Linked DNA regions of Homo sapiens: region 1 is linked to region 2. Evidence: fine-mapped expression QTL. A gene starts in region 2. The other region holds a variant in brackets. All regions are shown on one strand. Distances are from middle to middle.

Region 1 (5,391 bases), 78 kb after region 2:
TACAGTGAGAAAGTACAATTTTATAACATGTATTTTACTCAACAAATGTAATTCTGATATATCTTACATATTAAAGGTAATATCTGTGGTATTTCTTTAATATTTCATTACACATTTAGGAAAATGACCATATTAGTATTATGAAAGAGAAAAACACACAAAGTAATATTTCAAAATGTGAAAGTCTCCCTTTATCTCTCCACAGGTAACCTCCCTTTTGTATATTTAATATAATTTTTAAATTAGAGTTTACTATTTTTTAGAGTGTTTGGTGGATGCAGTGGTGTGCTGTCCAGTTACACCTTAGCTCAGGGTATTCCTTTCCAACACTTGAGAATGGTGGCTGCTAATGCCTCACAGCTCCCCTAGCCTTGTCACTCCCCTAGCCGTGTCCTACACGGAAACTTGTTGACTCAGCTAAGGTTACATTCCTCCCTGGGAGGAGCCCATTTCTAATGACTAATAAATAAGTGAGTACAAAGGCTTGGCCCCTTGCCTAAATTGAAGACAACTCTGAAAGGCCAGCCAAGCTTCAGAGTACACAGTGGTATCGGCTGAGACTTGTTGCCGCTGCAGCACAGTTCATCTTCTCCCTCTGCTCAATCCTGCTCAGTCACTACACCCCTACAGCTGTTTTTCCCAAGAGTACTTCCTAATAAGTTTCCTCCCGGCATATCTCACTCTCAGAGTTTGGGTCCCAAGGAACTTGTCCCATAACACTCTCTTTAGAAAATAGGTATAATTTCAAACGTTCATTGAGTAGGGAATTCTGAGGTAAAAGAAACTGAGTGAGGAGAGAATGTTTAGCAACTTAAACTGTCTGTAATTATTATAATATGAAATGTTATATATTCACTTCTTGTGCACTTATGTGGTGACACGCAGGTCTGCCTGTGCCTTGGCAGGTATTTAATTATGACATCATGTGTGGGATCAACTGGTGTAATAAACTCAATTGCCTACTTTTATTTGAACAACTAGACACGTACTAATAGAATTCACACACACACACACACACACACACACACACACAGTACAGAGCTACCACATTCTTAATCACTGAAACACTTTACAGTAAGTTCAAATATATGTGTTACAAAGTTGTTAGAAAATTCTTTTTTTCTCAAGTCAAGACAAAAACAAAGTAACTTGTCTGCATAAAATAATACATTAGAAATCTGATGTGTTAAATTTTAGTATTTAATGCCTCCAAATATGAATGTTTAATTTTTTGATAGTTAAACATGATTTTAAGACAAATAAATTGGAACCAAACCTTTTATGGAACCCAAAAGTACCTTCACAAAACTCTAGTCTTCCATTTAACAAAAACTATTGCTCTGAAATTTTATTAACTCCATATCAGAATTTTAAAAATATGTATGTTGTGTTGGCATTGTCTCTAGTAAAAGGAGACTCTTTTTTCAAGTTCAATGGTTTAAACATAAATTCACATGTGGTGTAAATCATAGGCTCTCCTATTTTAAAAGGTGCCAAAGATGTGTGTTTATTCTCATTATTGACATGCAAAGATGTTTTTATATGATGTAGTTCATTTTAAAAGCATGATATAAAACAGGATGTAATATATTATCCTAACCTTTTATGCACCTATCTTTGTAAAATACAATATATATAATATATTGAAAATAATATATAAAACATTTCATTCAGTAACTAAGTCCTACCCATTCTGCATTCCAGTAGTTCTTGAGGAACATCAGTTTGACTATCATGGTAAAATACTTTAATGCTACTAACTTAAATGTATTTAATTTGTTGGAAGGTATTTTTATATGTGGTCTACCCTAGACTGATATCTTGTTTATGGCTTATAGCTATCTGGGCCAGACACGAGCTGAATTATTTAATACCAACCATGGAAAAAGAGACAGTTAGCCAATTTGGGTTGTTTAGCAAAGGAATGATTAAGTTACTTGCAAATGAATTGAGGTTTACTTATCCTTGCATAACATGTAGTATTTGCCTCCATTAAGGGAATTAATAACCCTAGCTTGTACTTCAGTTACGGATGAAGAGGGAATTAAATGTTTAGCCCAGTTTCCCTTCCCTAATTATACTACTAATATTATATTGTAGATAAAAGCTTATAAGAAGTCTACTAAATTCAAAATGAACCAATATTTTAAAATTT[A/G]CTAAAATTTCTTTTTTCTTCTCTTTGATTTTTTTTCTTTTTAAGACTGACATCTGGTCCTGAGAACACACTTTTCCACTACGTTGCCTTAGAAACAGTGCAAGGAATCTTTATTACTCCTACCCTTGAAGAGGTGGCACAGCTAAGTGGCTCTATCCACCCTCAGCTAATAAAGAATTTCCATCAGTGTTGTCTTTCCATTCGTGCAGTTTTCCAACAGACATTGGTGGAAGAGGTAGGGCACTGCTATAAATACAGTTTTCTGCCAGTTTAATTTCCAGATCTCTAAGCATTCTGTTATCTAATCAATATGCCCAGCATTGTTTTCATTTCATTAAGTTTTTTTAAATAGTCACTTAATCTAACGTGGGTGCCAAAACAATTATACTCACAGTACTTCAAGGTTTTATTTTATACTGAATCTGATGTCTTGGGTTACTTTTCAGGATATGGTAGACCTGTGTTTTCTACAGCAAAGCAAAATACAGTCGTTTGTAATGTAAATTAACCTTCCATATTTGATATCTGTGACTCAACCATTACTTGAGTAATAATATCTACCAATTGGTTCCTAAAATAACTCTGATAATTCTTTGAGTATTTAGCCAATAGTATAGGGATTTTGGAATATAATGGATTAAGGCAGGGGTCCCCAACCCCCCTGGGCCACATACCAGTAGCTCTCTGTGGCCTATTAGGAACCAGGCTGCACAGCAGGAGGTGAGTGGCGGGCCAGGGAGCCTTACTGCCTGAGCTCTGCTTCCTATCAAATCAGCAGCACATACGAGTGCAAACCCTATTATTGTGAACTGTGCATGTGAGGGATCTAGGCTGTGCACTTCTTATGAGAATCTAATGCCTGATGATCTGAGGTAGAACAGTTTCATCTTGAAACCATCCCTCCCCCAGAAATTGGTCTCCAATGCCAGAAAGGTTGGGGACTGCTGGGTTAAGGTACAGCTATAGACACAAGACTAATGCAAATTTTTTGGCATTTGGTTGGTTGATTGCTTGCTTGCTTTTCTATCCAGGATGAAGTTTCATTGAATGTTGTTATCTGTTGAATAAATAATAATGCTGTGTACAATTACAATATCAGATTATTTAAATGGCAGGAAAAGATAGGTGTTGATTTCTTGAAAAGGATAAAACTTACAGAGGTTTACTTGTGACGTTATACAGCCAAAAAACCTCTCTGAAAATGGTTGTAATGTATATAGCAATACATGTGTTAGGGATGCCAAATTTGTGAAGAACTTGGGTTTAAAAGTGGAAGAACATTGGACAAGGAATAAGGAATCCTGGACTGAGCCTCACCTCCTATTTCCTTAGCTATGAAGCAAGTGGGCTGAATTACATCATCTCTCCAGGTTCATTCAGCAGTAAAATTCTGTGTCTTGTAGGATTTTTTTTTGAGTCCTCAGAAATTGTTATTCTGTAAAAATACTGTGTTTGACCCTATATTCCTGTATGCTTTGGGTTCTTATGCTCCTATTTCCCTTTTTAACATTAACTGATAAATGTTATAAAGGAATATTTCATTTACTTATTTGATAATATTTAGTAATATAAATTAGTTTTCCCCATCTTATTTAAACATTGAGGTACCTACTCTGCACCAGACACTATTCTAGGAACGTGGGATACAACAGTGGACAAAACAAAGTCCCTTCCTTCACGAAGCCTATTTTCTAATTAGAAATTAGTATGCTGAGAAGAATTAGAAAATAGTATGCTGAGAAGAATCAGTGTCAAGCAAAATAATAAAACATGGTAAGGATTAGAGGTGGGAGTGACTATTTTGAAAGGTCTCTCTGATCATGTCAAGTGATACTTGAACAGAGACCTGAATGAAGTGAGGGAGCAAGCCATGTGGCTCTCTGGGGACAGAGCTTCCAGCAAGGGGAACAGCAAATGCAAAGCTGCAGAGCATTACCGCCTGAGGTCTGCCTCCTGTCAGGTCAGCTGCGGCATTAGGTTCTCATAGGAGTGCAAACCCTACTGTGAACTGTCCATGCAAGGGATCTAGGTTGCCCACTTCTTATGAGACTCTAATGCCTGATGATCTGAGGTGGAACAGTTTCATCCTGAAACCATCCCCTAGGGGCTGGGAGAGTACTGGAGCAAACTGAGTGAGAAGAAAGTGGAAGAAGAGATCACAAAGGTAGCAGGGCCAGCTTATGCATGGCCGGATAGACTATGATAAGGACTTTGGGCTTTGTTCTGAAAGAGATGATACATTCTTGAACAGTTCTGCCCAAATAAGGGACATGATCCGTAATTTTTTTAAAGGATCACTCAGGCTACTGTGGGTAGAACAGGAAACAGAATAGCAAGGGTGGAGGCAGGGACCAGTTAGGAGGCTTTCAAAATTCTCAAAGCAAGAAATGATTATGGCTTCTGGACTGTGGATATATTTTGGAGGGCAAACCAAAAAGATCTGTTGATGGATTAGATAAAAGCTATGAAGGAAAGAAAAGGATCAAGGATCACTCCACTGTTTGCCCTGAAACTTATAAGAAGCCTTTATAGTCCAAATGAGTCATTGTTTTGCTAATGCTTTAATCAGTATGAAATTTAGAGATTATGGGTCAAAGGAAGACAAAATACTGTTTTAAATATATATTTTTTCAATTTATTACAGAATTATCTGTTCATTTAGAACACATTTATTAAGCACCTACTATGAACCAGGCACTGCTGGTTTTAAAACACACAAAGAAGATTGCATATTGTCTCTTCCCTGGGGAAAAAAGCTTATAATTTTCTATCTTCCACTGTGGAAGACAGATCTATAAACTGCTAATATAATATAATATACATACTAATAATATAGGCCTGTGAACAAAGTGTTCCCTAGAAAAGTCAAGGGACACTTTATCCATGAAGTCTCCTTTAGGATATGGTATTTAAGTTTTGAGGAAGAGTAGAAATTTTCCTGCAGATAAGAAGAATGTCATTGCAGGCACTGAAGTATTTGGATCAGCCAATTCAGATTACTCTGTGAAAACATTTTAAAGTAACACTGGTAATACCAGTTAATACTAACAATACCTATTAATTTACAGAAAAAGAAAGGACTAAATAGTGGAGACCATTCAGATTCTGCAAAGTCAGTGTCTTCTCTTAACCCTGTTAAAGAACATGGTGTGTTGTTTGAATGTTCACCTGGAAACTGGACTGATCAGAAAAAAGCACCACCAGTTATGGCTTACTGGGTAGTAGGGTAAGTGAGA
Region 2 (5,391 bases):
CCCATTACCCCTTTACAAACTCCTCCTCCTGTTCTTCAACTTTAGTAACATATAGACCTCTTTTAAGGAAAAACTATTGTGGATTTCCATGGATGACTTAAGTTTTTTAATTATAATTTTAAATAAATGAGGTATAATCTGTGCTTTATAGCTCCTATATAAGATGAAAACAATTTTATGAATTAATACAAATAAATTACAAAATGTAATCGCTGTTATAACACTATAAAAACACATTTAGAAATTAAAACAAAACCATAAAACCTAGGAAATTCAAATGTATATAGTTTAATGTACATTTGTACATGTAATATACAAATTCAAATGTACATAGTTTAATGTATATTTGTACATGTAATGTACAGTTAATGTAAATACAACTAAACTTCAGCTTAAAAGTATAAGCTGCATACTGCAGCTTGTTTGGCTGTGAGGAAGGTAAAATATACTATCCTGGCCATTTAAGTTTAATACACTTGAAAAACAGCAAGTGCCTTTGTGCTGCTTCTTAAAAGCAACAGATGAAGCTCCCATGTGAAAGACACCCTCCCTATACTAGAAAAATGTAACATTCTTATTCTCAAGGGCATAGAAGTGAAACCAAGAGAATTCTGTACAGACCTTGTTAAAATAACTTATCTTTTAAGCTTCCCAATTTAGTTTAGTTGCTTCTTCACAACTAACTATTCTTTGTCCAATCCAGTATATAAGTTAACTGACTCTAACTGCTTCTTTGGGTCTTCATTTCTTTATGAGGGCTCCCCTGCCATGTAAAACTTGGATTCTAGAGCAAGGAGAGAGGTCTGTCTGCCAGGCTCAAATTTGCGAGGTGGGAGTGGGTTCCAGCCTATTCAGGGAATGGCCAGTTGGCCTGTATAGATGAAGCACAGAACTGAGAGAAAATTTAGGGCAGTTCCCCAAGTTTGCTGAATCACAGGGGGCACTTGTTTGAAATAGAGATTTCCAGGCCCCTCCACTGGAGATTCTGATCCTGTTGATGTGGAGCAGGGCCTCAACATCTGTATAACAAGTTCCAGTTGCTTTTCTTTTGTTAATCTATTTTAGGTAAGTTTAATTCTCAGGCCCAGCTGGGACCCTAAGAAGATGGAGGTAGAGTTTTTCTGCCCCTGCAACAGCTACAATTCAGGTTCCTTTGAGTTCTCCATGCATATACCCATACCGGCCATGTGATGACTCATCTCCCATTACTCTTTCTCTGTTGGAACCATGCCATAATAACAATATAAATTAATACTTCCTCTAAGAAATTTGTCATGGCCCCACGTATACTACTTTGGTTTTTTCTGGATATTCCATTAGAACCTTGTATTTATTGTAATACTTATCACTATGTTATAATTGCCCATTAGAGAATCCCCAGCACCCAGCCTTTTAGATCATAAAATAACATTATATCCTTTTTTTACACGCTGCAACATGAACATTTCCCCCATGCTTTACTCTTTGAACACATTCTAGTTAAAATCATAATCATCATATTTTATATATATTTAACTTTTCCCCCATTATTTGACATTTTAAGATTGCTTTCAGCTTTTCACTTTTACAAATTTTATAAATTTGCATCCTTTCTCAGAGTAGATATCTAATAGTTGAATTACTGGGTTCTGAGGGAGGAAATTTCATGTAATGGTTATTGACTTAGGTTCATTTCTTGGTTGACTTTGTTGACTGCTAGCCATGTAACCATTAGTAAGATGCATAACTTCTCTAAAGCTTAGTTTCCTTATTTAATATAGAGAAAATATTTACTTCATAGTATGTGAATGCTCAGCATTGTATATGAATAAAGTGAGCAGAGCCAAGGCTGACTCTCAATCAATGCTAGCTGTTATTTTTGTACTTAAAAAATACTTGATATAGGTATTCATAAATAACAGGTAGATTTTACCTGTTTACACTTCCAACTTTAATAATGAGAACACTTAATTAGATTATAAAATTTTGAGTTAGAAAATGAACATGAAGTTGATTCCACAGGATTGCCACTCATTTGTGGCACTCTACAATACCCACTTGGGATAACCGTGAAAATGTTTGCAATTGCGAAACAATATGAAACCCATAAAACAATGGAGCGTATTTACATTAACACCTAGATCGCGTTGCTTAAAAGCGTCCATTACTTGCACGGATGAGGTCCTAAGGAAAGGTAAAGTGCGGTTTCCTTCACCTCGAAGGAAATCCAGGCTGACCGACAGCTGTTAGGCATTAGAAACACAGGACAAAGAGCAAACTGGATATCCAGCACTGGAAGAAAAAGGTGAGAAGCCCAGTGCATCTCCGCCTGTTTTAACAGGTTATGCTGCTCTAAGGAATTGCGTTCCGGAGAGCGTAAGCGGTGAAGTTTTAGCTATTTCTATCCTTCCAACTGAGAAGCCCTCCTGGAAGTTTCAGCCCATTGGCTGCTTTCTGTTCTCCCTGTTTCTTCTGGGAAGCTTCTCCGTCTCCCTGGCAACGCGACCTGCCACCAATTGCAGCTAAGGATTGGTGGTCACATGGCCTCTGCCCCTTCCCAAGCAGAGGCAACATGGCGGCCTTAGCAAGCTATAGCTGCGAGATTTGAATTACTCCACTCGTAGCTATTGCATTCCTGACGATGGCCTCTGTGGCTTCGTGCGATTCGCGTCCGAGCTCAGACGAGCTCCCTGGAGACCCCTCTTCACAAGAAGAAGATGAGGACTATGATTTTGAAGATCGGGTCAGCGACTCGGGTTCATATTCCTCAGCGAGTAGCGATTATGAGTAAGGTTTTCAAAGAGGGACAATTAATCCCATCCCATCAATCCAGAGAATATACACGTGGGCTGGGGGAACTGCAAGGGTGTTGGCGTGGTTGGAATCGAGTATTTGGGGTTCTATAATAAGTGGGATTTAATTGCACCACGTTCCATTGTATGGTGGTGTGAGCAGAAATGACGATGCCATTCTTTGCTACTGTAGGTTGTTTTTTGTTTGTTTTGTTTTGTTTTTTCAATGATTCTTAGATGAGGAGAATCTCCTCTTTTTGGTCATGGGCTCTGTCTAGGCCATAGGAGGATATATCTGTAACAGCGTTCAAAAAACTCTGTTTCGATCGCAGTGTCTTGATTCTTTGGTGTGACCTTTGTGGCTTAATCTCTTTAGTATTTGGAGTGGAGAGACACCCTACGCGTTTTATAAGGCAGTTGTTAAATTTATGTAGATTTTTTCTGTTATGGAAATGAATAGCTATATAACAGAAGGAACGCCCACCCATAGTCTCACCATCAAGGACAACCTCTCAGCACTTCTGGATATTTCTGCTGTATTTTCCTATGCATCTCCATGATTTTCTTGTTTTCCATTTTACGTCATAATTTAATTTTTAAAAATACAGATACCTAAAGGTTTCACTTTCTTAATAATGCCATGAAAAGGTTATTTTGATTCACAGTATTCAGTGCTACTTCATTTTTAAGAAAAATCTACCCCTTACTGCTATGGATTAAGAACTTTAGAAAAGTCAACTAGCAGTAGCTTGAAGAGAATGACTAATCGTGAAAAAGTTTTGGTGCCAAAATGTCAACTAACCCAGTAATGGACAACCATACCTGGTCAGTTTTAGGATGACATTTTATGTGTATTTAGGAACAACAGTTACAAATCATTTATATGTATGTAGGAGCAACTGTTATTTGGCAATTGTTTTTACCTATCAGTATGTAAAAGATTTTTATCATTGCCTTTAAAAGTATGGTGGGGAAACCTGTTTAATACATTCTTGAAGACTTAAACAAATTTTAAAATATCGTATTTTTTTGTAATCTGCTGTAGGCATTAAAAAAATAATTTTAAAATTCATGATTATTACACAAGGCTGCTGGAAGGAAATATGAATTACATAGAACCTTATTTGGTCTTGGTATGTGAAGCCATAGACAGTGTAAGACTCAAACTCTTGGCTTCTCCACATTTTAGAGTCGCATACTTTTAGCCCAGAAAGAATCTATGATTCATGTATAGTTGCACAGCTGAGTGTTGTCAGTGTGAGAATTCAAGACGCCTGATACCTAATGGGCCACCATGACTTTGATGGGATTAAAATAGTGAACTTTGTTTCCTAGGAAATGACCAATCTGAGGACCTTGTGATAGGAGAACTTGTCACTTAAAAGAATAAAAGTATTTCATGATTCAAAATACATGTATGTATGTTATATTTTAGCTTTTAAAAAATGATCATTAAGCTTTTCACATGTCACTAATCACGCCACATGTTCTAGTGTCTTTATCCTCCTAATAATAAAAGTATAGAAAATCCCTATCATAAGATGTTTTGCTGGTCTGTATTTCAAGTCCTACCAAGTTTCAAATTTTAAGTCTGTCCCTTCTTGATTTGTAGGACATGAGGGTTAATTTGCTGAACTTACCAGGAAGGCTTATGTTCGGTTCTTCCCTTATGGTAGATGTTTACTTCCCTAAGCTGCAGTCATCATTACAAACAGTGGCCTTCCCAACTTGTACAGAACCACTCTTTAATCAAAGGCACAGGAATGCCAACCTTAGTCTTTCTCATTAAAGCAAAGACATGAATTTCCTATTGTATTTCATGGACTACGTGAAGCTTACTAAGGAAGTTGTACTGCATATTGACTCACATAAAGTATCCTGAATTTTCAAGGTTTTAGTTAACTGCGTGTTCTTTTTAGAAGTTACTGTTTCATACATGCTTTGTACCTGAGCTGTATGTGATTGTCAATATAGAATTTAAAAGTTTATCATCTTGGAGATAAAATTACATTATGGTAAATTCTGGTAGAGTTCTTTTAATAGGTTTGTTTTAGGTTTGTTAGAGAATAAGAGTTTATATTGCTGCAGTATGTCTTAAGTTGACACATGGGCACATACCCTGGGAGGCTTCCGAGATAATACTGGTGGGTTGGTTGGGTTGAGGGAGCCATTAGCTAGTTTTAGCATTAAGATAACAGAAATCACACATTCACCTGCAACAATGCCAAGTTACCAGCTAATATGCCTAGTTCATGTTACAGAGAGTTTGTCAATGTTGTGACTTGGATTTTTAATTTTTCAAAGTGAATTTTTTGTTGTTGTTACATCAGTTTTAAAACTGGCTGATGGAGAGAAACAGGAATCATTTTAAATGAGATATTAGCTGTTAAAGCTAAGGAACTTCCACCTAAAACACAAGGATTGGCTGGAGAAGGGAGGTATGTCCTTTAAATTTTTTTCTGGGACTTTAAAAATAGCTTCATTGAAGGATAATTTATATACAAAAAACTGCACATATTTTTAATGTACAATTTGATGTTTTAACATGTATACGTCTGTCAAGAAAATGAACATATCCATCTCGCCTAAGAGTCTCCCCATGTACCTACTTAAGTCCATT

Alleles and levels. Positions count from the first base shown, and alleles are read on the strand shown. Sizes are in standard deviations (SD) of each study's normalised expression.
In carriers of allele G in region 1, the expression in esophagus mucosa of the gene that starts at base 2,543 in region 2 tends to be higher than with A alone (small effect, 0.21 SD a copy in GTEx).

Evidence for each region. PIP is the estimated chance that this variant, and not a neighbour inherited with it, causes the effect.
Region 1: its variant is the best candidate, but not a certain one, in a credible set for the expression of INTU in esophagus mucosa (GTEx, PIP 0.50).

Annotation. Positions count from the first base shown.
Region 1 is chr4:127,708,713-127,714,103 of GRCh38, forward strand. It overlaps INTU (inturned planar cell polarity protein), which reads left to right. Exons shown (of 16, transcript NM_015693.4): 14 at 2,201-2,390; 15 at 5,224-5,381. Among named protein-coding and RNA genes, the nearest start is that of SLC25A31, 19 kb to the right of the region's middle. RefSeq lists an enhancer at 1-794 and a silencer at 242-536. The variant A/G (reference allele first, on the strand shown) is at 2,156.
Region 2 is chr4:127,630,415-127,635,805 of GRCh38, forward strand. INTU (inturned planar cell polarity protein) reads left to right here and starts at 2,543. Exons shown (of 16, transcript NM_015693.4): 1 at 2,543-2,766. The coding sequence starts at 2,621. RefSeq lists enhancers at 2,191-2,730, 2,393-2,572.